Linked DNA regions of Homo sapiens: region 2 is linked to region 1. Evidence: fine-mapped QTL for protein levels in blood plasma. Region 1 holds a variant in brackets. A gene starts in the other region. All regions are shown on their reverse strands. Region 1 overlaps LOC124902229 (a long non-coding RNA gene). Region 2 holds the start of ADGRG2 (adhesion G protein-coupled receptor G2).

The links. PIP is the posterior inclusion probability: the model's chance that the variant is causal. The UK Biobank Pharma Proteomics Project read protein levels with antibody pairs (Olink). The fine-mapping took linkage between variants from a reference panel, not from the people measured, so its PIPs are less certain.
Region 2: it holds the start of ADGRG2, and the variant in region 1 is fine-mapped to the plasma level of the ADGRG2 protein (UK Biobank, PIP 0.98).

Annotation. Positions count from the first base shown.
Region 1 is chr9:98,798,681-98,803,067 of GRCh38, reverse strand. It overlaps LOC124902229 (a long non-coding RNA gene), which reads left to right. Exons shown (of 2, transcript XR_007061689.1): 2 at 3,459-4,387. Among named protein-coding and RNA genes, the nearest start is that of ANKS6, 4.3 kb to the right of the region's middle. The variant AG/G (reference allele first, on the strand shown) is at 2,523.
Region 2 is chrX:19,120,520-19,124,906 of GRCh38, reverse strand. ADGRG2 (adhesion G protein-coupled receptor G2) reads left to right here and starts at 2,439. Exons shown (of 29, transcript NM_001079858.3): 1 at 2,439-2,465.

The DNA.
Region 1 (4,387 bases):
ATGCCTTTGGATCCTTTGTGGTATCCTCTGGCTACTCCCAGTCAGTGACCGAGCATGGTGTGGTACCAGAACCTGGCCACATCTGCATGATATAGGACACAACCCGTGCTTGGGAATCCCCCATCTGCCTGGCTGAGACTTTCCCTCGTCACTTCCCATTCTCCTTTCTCAAGTATCAGACCTGCATCATGGTCTGAGGGCTCCCCATCCCTTTTCCCCGACTTTCCCCTTTCCCTCTTTTTTTTTTTTTTTTTTTTGAGACGGAGTCTCACTCTGTCGCCCAGGCTGGAGTGCAGAGGTGTGATCTCTGCTCACTGCAACCTCCGCCTCCCAGGTTCCAGCGATTCTCATGCCTCAGCCTACCAAGTAGCTGGGATTAAAGGCACGCACCACCACACCTGGCTAATTTTTTTGGTATTGTAGTATAGATGGGGTTTCACCATGTTGGCCAGGCTGGTCTCAAACTCCTGACCTCAAGTGGTCCACCCATCTCGGCCTCCCAAAATGCTGGGATTACACACTTTCCCTCTTTGTCCTTTGTAGGTATTTTTCCCAGAAAACAAACAAACAAACAAACATCTAGGCATCTGATTCTTAGAGGATCCAAACCAACACAGGGACCAATGGAAAAAAAAAAAGGCTGGAAGAGAATTCATAAACAATAAGGCTATAGCTATACTTGCATAGAAAGATGTGCTGGATCTGTGCTTCACAAACTTTAATGTATGGTATGGTGAGTCACCTGGGGATCCTGTTGAAATGCTAGATCTGGTTAAGCAGGTCTGGTGTGGGCCCAAGATGCCACATTTCTAACAAGCTCCCTGGTGATACCAGTGCTGCTGGTCCAAGAACCCCAGATTGAGCAGCAAGGTGCTAGACATCGTCCATTTGTCCCTGCTGTTTCTCTTCACCCTGTTCTGTGCCCTGGAAGGCTGACTGCATGAACTATATCAGCAGGCTCCAAGACTCTAGCTTCCAGTAGGGTTTACTAATGAGGAGCACTGGCAGGAGATCAGAGGGCAGGAGGAGAGTGAGGTCAGAGGTTTTTATTCCTCTGAGGATAGCTCCCTACTGAGTTGCTGTGGGTTGGCTCTGTCCCTCTACCAAAGGCTGTAGCTCCTATCAGGTAGGTCTCTGCAATTTTTCTCTCTTGCAGAATTCCAGTACCTGCTCTCCCCTTTTCCCCTTCAGGCCTGGGATGGTAACAGCTCTGTACTATTACCAGCCCTGGAGTACTGCACCATCCCTTGTGGCTCTTAGTAAATCCTGCCTATACTTCTGTAAATGGTCCTTTAGTAAGCATTCCCCAGCTCCTCAGCCAAGTGTGCCATCTGTTTCCTGGTGGGACCCTGGCTGCTACAAGCGCTGTCCAATGCAGTATTTTTTATAAGAGCAGAAAACTGGAAACAAGCTAACTGTGCTTGTTTCTGTTTGTTTGTTTGTTTGTTTGTTTGAGAGTCTTGCTCTGTCACCCAGGCTGGAGTACAGTGGTGCAGTCTCAGCTCACTGTAACCTCTGCCTCTCAGGTTCAAGCGATTCTCGTGCCTCGGCCACCTAGGTAGCTGGGATTACAGGCATGTGCCACCACACCTGGCTATTTTTTTTTGTATTAGAGATGGGATTTCACCATGTTGGCCAGGCTGGTCTTGAACTCCTGGTCTCAAGCAATCCACCCCCCTTAACCTCCCAAAGTGCTGGGATTACAGGCATGAACCGCCATACTCGGCCTCAACTGTGCCTTATTCTAAAATGATTAAATGGGCTGGGAACAGTGGTTCATGCCTGTAATCCCAGCACTTTGGGAGGCCGAGGCGGGTGGATCACTTGAGGTCAGGAGTTCAAGACCAGCCTGGCCAACATGGCAAAACCCCGTCTCTACTAAAAATACAAAAATTAGCTTGGTGTGGTGGCGGGCATCTGTGATCCCAGCTACTCCATAGACTAAGGCAGGAGAATCGCTTGAACTCAGGAGGCAGAGGTTTCAGTGAGCCAAGATTGCACCACTGCACTCTAGCCTGGATGACAGAGTGAGACTCCATTTCAAAAAATATAAAATAGAAATAAAAATTAAATGATTAAATAAATTATGGTACGTCTGCTGAATGGTGTTTCATGCTATCATTTATTTATTTATTAAAATTTTTTTGGAGATGGAGTCTCGCTCTGTCGCTCAGGCTGGAGTGCAGTGGTGTGATCTCGGCTCACTGCAACCTCCACCTCCCAGGTTCAAGCAATTCTTCTGCCTCAGCCTCCCAAGTAGCTGGGACTACAGGCACATGCCACCATGCCTGGCTAATTTTTTTGTATTTTTAGTAGAGACAGGGTTTCACCGTGTTGCCCAGGCTGGTTTCAAACTCCTGAGCTCAGGCAATCCGACTGCCTCAGCCTCCCAAAGTGCTAGGATTGATTACAGGTATGAGCCACATCGCCGGGCCGCAATCATTTTTTTAAAATGCAGCAGTCTGTATTTACCTACATGGAAAGGTGCCCAAGACATTTGTTAATGGAAAAAGAAAAAAAAA[AG/G]CAAGATTCAAGAATAGCATGCGTAGTATGAACCCATTCATTTACAAAAAAAGTAAATTATCCATTTGTTAAGGCTTGGAATGCAAGTGACAACAATGCTGCTCAAAATAAACCTCACCAAAAAGAATGTGGGGAGGGATTTTCTAACTTAGTCTCTTTCTATCACTTGGTTTTGCTTTCTTTTGTGGTGACTTCACTCTTAGGCAGGCTGTCTTCAAGTGGTGGCAAAGTGAGCACCAGTTTGGCTGACATCCTGATAGCTGGCAACCTCAGCAGAGAGGGCCTCATTCTCAATTGCTTTAGCAAAAATCCTGGGCTGGGCTGGGCACAGTGGCTCATGCCTGTAATCCCAGCACTTTGGGAGGCTGAGGGAGGAAGATCACTTGAGGTCAGGAGTTTGAGGCCAGCCTGGACAACGTGGTGAAACCCCGTACCTACTAAAAATACAAAAATTAGCCGGGCATGGTGGTGGGTGCCTGTAATCCCAGCTACTCGGGAGGCTAACGCAGAGAATCACTTGAACCCAGGAGACAGAGGTTGCAGTTTGTGGGGTGCAATTGTGCCGCTGAACCTCAGCCTGGGAGAGAGAGTGGGACTCCGTCTCAAAAAAAAAAAAGTCCTGGGCTGAAGCCAATCAGGATATGTGCTAACCACTGAAGCACACAGACTGTGAGTAGGGAAGAAAGGCTTCCCAAAAGAAAAAGGGTGTCCAGAGGGAATATTTCATAGCAAACACTTGTTATCGTTTTTGACTGCCCAGCATCTGAACCCCCTTCCTACATTTGGGAGTGCCCTACCTTCTGAAGCAGAAACTACCTCCCGCTATTATATGAGCACATGACCCAAGTTGGGCCAGTCAGGCACTGTCACCTCAGCCTCTGAATCTGAAGCCAGGAACACCAAAAAGGGCCTGAACCAACCCCATCTTCCTACAGGGTGCAGCTGCGGCATGAGATTTGGGTCATTGTTCCTGGCTTTGGGGCCTCCAGAACTGGTTCTCAGGCTCTCATGGATCTGTGAGCTACAGAAGAACCTTGTACTAAATCCTGCAGCTTTTCCAGCACCTAAAACAGTGTCTGGAAATGGCAGGCACTCAATACATATTTGTTGAAAATGGAAAGAGAGTTGGACTCGATGTCAGAAGACCTGAGTCCTACTCACAGCTCTCCTGCAGAATAGTTGTGGAGTCTTTGGCAAGACACAACCTCTTTGTGCCTCGGTTGCCTCCTCTGCAACCTAGGGATGATCATCTGGGCCCTCCCCGGTGGATGGCAGGCGTGCAATGAAGATCAAACGTGGGTCTCCAACTTTAGCATGCATCAGAATCACCCAGAGGGCTTGTTAAAATATAGGTTGCTGAACCCACACCCAGAATTTCTGATTCAGTAGATCTTGGGTAGGGCCAGAAAAATCTGCGTTTGTAACAGTGTTGCAGCTGGTGATGGTGCTACTGCTGTGTGGGACACACTTCAAGGACCGCTGATAAAGAGAGAGAAGGTATTTCATTTTCTTTGTGACCATTGTAAATGAGGTTGTGTTCTTAATTTTGTTCTCAGCTAGAATGTTATTGGCATATCAAACTGCTATTGCTTTTTATACATTGATTTTCTGTCCTGAAACTTTACTGAATTTGTTTATCATTTCCAGGAGCCTTTTGGCAAACTCTGTAGGGTTTTCTATGTATAGATTCATACTCTCCGCAAAGACAGAGTGTTCGACTTTTTCTTTTCCTATTTGAATGCCTTTTATTTCTTTCTCTTACCTGGTTGTCTGGCTAGGACTTCCAGTACTATGTTGAATAGGAGTGGTGAGAGTCTTCTTCCAGCTTTTGCCTGTTTAATATGATGTTGGCTATGGGTTTGTC
Region 2 (4,387 bases), not on the chromosome of region 1:
CTCTTACTTCTAGGTATTTACCTAAGTGAAATAGAGGTTTATATTCACACAAAAAGCTGTATGTGAATATTTATATTGCCTTTATTCACAATAATCAATAGCTGGGGCTACAGGCATGCACCGCCATGCCTGGCTGATTTTTTTTTATTTTTTATTTTTACAGAAATGGAGTCTCACTATGTTGCTCAGGCTGGTCTTGAACTCCTGGGCTCAAGCAATCCCCTCACCCCAGCCTCCCAAAGAGCCTTAAAGTCCTTTTTTAAACAGCAAGTTTGTTTAAAGGAAAAGCATACTTACTCTGGTATCACGCTTAACTTTAGAAATTCAAGCAACTGTTAATATGAGATAGACATATATTAACTTGTTATTGACGTGAGACATACATACAGAAAAGTGCTCATAGATCCGTTTAAACTGTACCCAGATCAAGAAGCCAGACATTACCTGTAAGCCCTTCTTATTCTCCAGTGACCGCTATCCTAACAGCATAGGTTAGTTTTGCCTGTTTTATCCTTTACAGAAACAAAATCATATAGTGTCTGTGTTTTTGGGCCTGACTTCTTCACTCAACATTGTTTCAGAGGTTCATCTATATTAAGCATAGCAGTGGTTCATGCAGTCTCATTGCTGTCTGGGATTCCGCTTTGTGACTATACCATCACAATGTCTGCGATCCATTCTGTTGGTGGGCATCTGGGTCATTTCCAATCTGGGCTATTGCAAATATACTGGTATGATATTCTAGTTCATATCCTTTGGTAAACATACACACTGATTGAGGTTGTGTGTACATCCAGAAGGGGAATTGCTGGTCAGAGGGTAGTTGTACTCTCAGCTTTAATAGATTCTGCCAAAGAGTTTTCCAAAATGCTTGTAAAAATTTACACTCCCACTAGCGGTGTATGAAAATTCTTTAGGTATGAGGTCTATGTAAAGCAAAAATAAAGAAGTTAATATGCAAAAGTTATATGTAAGTTAAAAATACGTGTTAAGTTCATTCAAACGGAACCAATTTAACCCGTTGGAGTAATACCGGGTGTGTTTATTTAATACACCATTTTCCCCTTCATCAAAACTTTTAATTTATGTAACCTGGATGAGCTTCCTGACTCTACTCTCCCTTAATCCAATCAGTTAAAAGTCTCTCTGAAAAGACTGTCCATTCATTTATTCAGTTAGAATGTTGTGAGTGTTAATAAACTGGTGTTTGCAAAACAAATTCAACCCCTCCTGCAAAGCAGAATATACATCTCGCCCATCATGTGTCTAAAATGGCAGAGTCAGCCAGGATATGCCTTAAAGATCTGCACTTGATAACCATCGCGTCTCCAGGGCTGTGAATGCAATTCAGAATCCAGAATTTTGTTCTAGTTGTAAAGGAAAAATGGTATATTCTCCCGCAGGTTTAACGAAAGAGAACGATGCCTTTAAAACGACAAAGCATTTTGCAAACACAGGTGTTATTCGACTATAAAGGCGGCGGGGGAGGGGGGCAGTAAAATGAGCCGGAAAGGGAATTCAGAGCGCTTATTTTTTCCCTGGTCTCTACAACTAATTCGTATTGTAGAACTGAGCCTCCATTTTCCCATCTGTAAAATAGGGTACTTTGACAAATTGCTTAGGGGATCTGTAAGTCCTATCCAGATCTAGTTTTTATTCTATGACCATGCAGGAGGAGAGATGCTGAGACAGAAAGGTAGAGGGGACCAGGGACAACTCACTTTATATACCCCCTCCACCTCGACCCCCAGCAGGCAGAGCGCCCGAGATCCCGGTTTCTGGGAACCCGGTGTATTTCCAGTCCTTCACCAGGAAAACCATCGAACTGAATCCTTTACTGGGACATTTCTCGTTTACTGCTCTCTCCAAATTCCCCTCTCAAGTGGTCTGACATCTGATCTCCGGATTCAGGAATATCTTGGTAGAAGTGCGCCCTCGGGGCTCCCACCCATTACAGCGTGCGACACTGAAACGGGCATATGGGTACCGGGGCGAGCCCTAAAGGTGAGCCGCTGAGTCTGGAGGTTGGGGTCCGTTGGGGTCCCCAAGGAGGAGCTCGCTGGGCTGGACGCCGGGCATCTGAGGGTCCCGCAGTGCCTGGAGCCCAGGAGCGCTGCGGGGCCCCCGGCTGCGGTGGGGTGGGCGGCCGAGCTCGCCGCCCCCGCTTCTCCCCGGCCCCTGCCCCTGCCCCGAGCTCCCAGCCCGGCTTCGGCCGGCCGCGCTGCCCGCTCCCCCTCCTCCCTCCGCGCCCCGCCCGCTCCCCACCTCCGCGCCCAGCCTCGCCGCCGCCGAGCGCCCGACGCGCCACGCCGCGCTGGGCAGCTGGAGAGCTGGCGGCGGAGCGGGCCGGGAGCGGCGGGGGCGGCGCCGAGGCCGCGGGCGGGGGGAGGAGGGCCGCAGCCCCGGAGAGGGGAAAAGGCGGGCCGGACGGCGCCAGCAGCCAGCCCCGAGGACGCGAGCGGCAGGTAAGCGCTCGGCGCCAGGACGGGTCTGGCCCCTTGGGGTCCTGAGACCCAGACTCGCACAGCCGGCCACGGGCGCTGGAGGCTCGGGCGCAGCGTCTAGCCCCGGAGGGCGGCGGGCCAGCGGGCCGGCGGGACGAACGCGCCTTCCGCCCGGCTGCTGTTCCTAGCCGGGGCCCGGGAACATCCTGAAAGGCGGAGGCGTAGCTCCCAGCCCCGGGGCTAGTTCCCCGACTGGGGGAGCCCGCGCGCCGTGGGAAAGGAGGCTCCAAGGGGAGACGCGCGTCTCCAAAACCTTCGGACGGAGCCGTACTTTCCCCAACCCGCGGGAAACTGAGCCACGAGCCTGACTCGCGCGGGTGGTGTGCTAGACGCCAACTCCCGGGAGCCCGGCTCCGCGCGCCTGGTCGGGCTGCGGCGGTGCTGGCGGAGCGCGAACGCGCCCGGGCCCCGGACGGCTTGGGGCGGCACCACTCGGCGCGGCCCCGAACAGGTGGCCCCGGGCACCGAGGGACGGAGCGGCGGCCCGGAGCCAGGGGGTGAGCACGCCGGGGAAGGAGGGGGCTCGTGGTCTCGGAGTGAGCGCATTTCGGCAGGGACTCGAGTTTCGAGGCTCCGAAACCCGATAAAAAGTGAGGGGGAAGAAGAGAGCTGACCTCCCGAGAGCCAGACGAAGCAGGGGACAGGTTTTCCGTGGCTGCTTCGACAGTGACAGTCTGTACTGTGCACGATAATCCCCCAGGGATCCCGTTAAAATGAGATTCTGATCCCGCAGGTCTGGGGTGGGGGCCGAGCGTCTGCATTTCTAAGAAGCTCCCAGTGGCTGCTGATGCTGTTCCATGGACCACACTTTATCCGGCAGGCCCTACGGAAGTACTTTTTGTCCAGCAGGCTGAAAACCTTAGGAAAAGTGGGAGATTGGGAGACGAGGTCCTAAGACTTTACAGTATGTATAGCTTTAATACCTCTTTGCCACCTCTACCCCCAAACGCACGCAAAAACACTTGCTACTATAAAGGCCAAGGGAAACTTTCCCTTCGCCCCCTGAAGGTTCGCTTGAAAAATTAACTGACAAAGACAGATTGATTGGAGAAAAGGCATGCAAATGTATTAATGTGTCCACGGGGAGAGAACAATAGAGTGATTACCCCCAGCCCCCCAATGGGGTACAGAAGCATGTAGATTATCTTGAGGTTACAGAAAGAAAGGGGTCTCAACGCATGGCCCCAAACAGGTTATGGTGGTAAAAGAGGTTGTGAGAGGGGGAGAAGAGGAGGCTTGGCCAGCAAAAATGGTCTGGAGATGTCAATGAAACCTCACAGGTGGCAGCCCTCAGAGAGAATAAACAGTAAATGTTTCTTTCAGACCTTTAAAGGGGTCAGATCCTCAGTTAATTTCTCTTAGATCTGGACAAGGGAGGACCTCGATAAAGCCTGGCTACATCCGTGCAGATTCTCTACAAATGCAAATCTTCCGCACCAAGGACAGCTTTGCATTAGCTCTACTGGCTGGCTTTCTAAATACGTCAATATTTAGAAATATGTCAACTATTTCAAAATATGTCAAAGAAATATATTTTGGGGTAAAATGATTTGATTTCCTTCACTACTCATTTAATAGCGAAATATTTTACTTTTCTTACCAACTTTCTAGCCAAATACATGATCTGATAGCAGGGCTGGCTTCATGGACATGCATCCTGCACTTGGTTTAATGCTGAAATTCTTAATTTTTGAACAAGGGGCCTCTCCTTTTCATTTTGCACTGGGTCCCACAAATTATGTAGCTGATCCTAATAGTCACCATACGTGGAAAGAGAACCCATTTTTTGATCAGGGTTTGAGATGGTGGGTGATGGAGAGTAGAGGTTTATTAAGGGAAGACTAGCTAGATGTTGCAGTTATCTCCAATCTTTCTCAACTCCT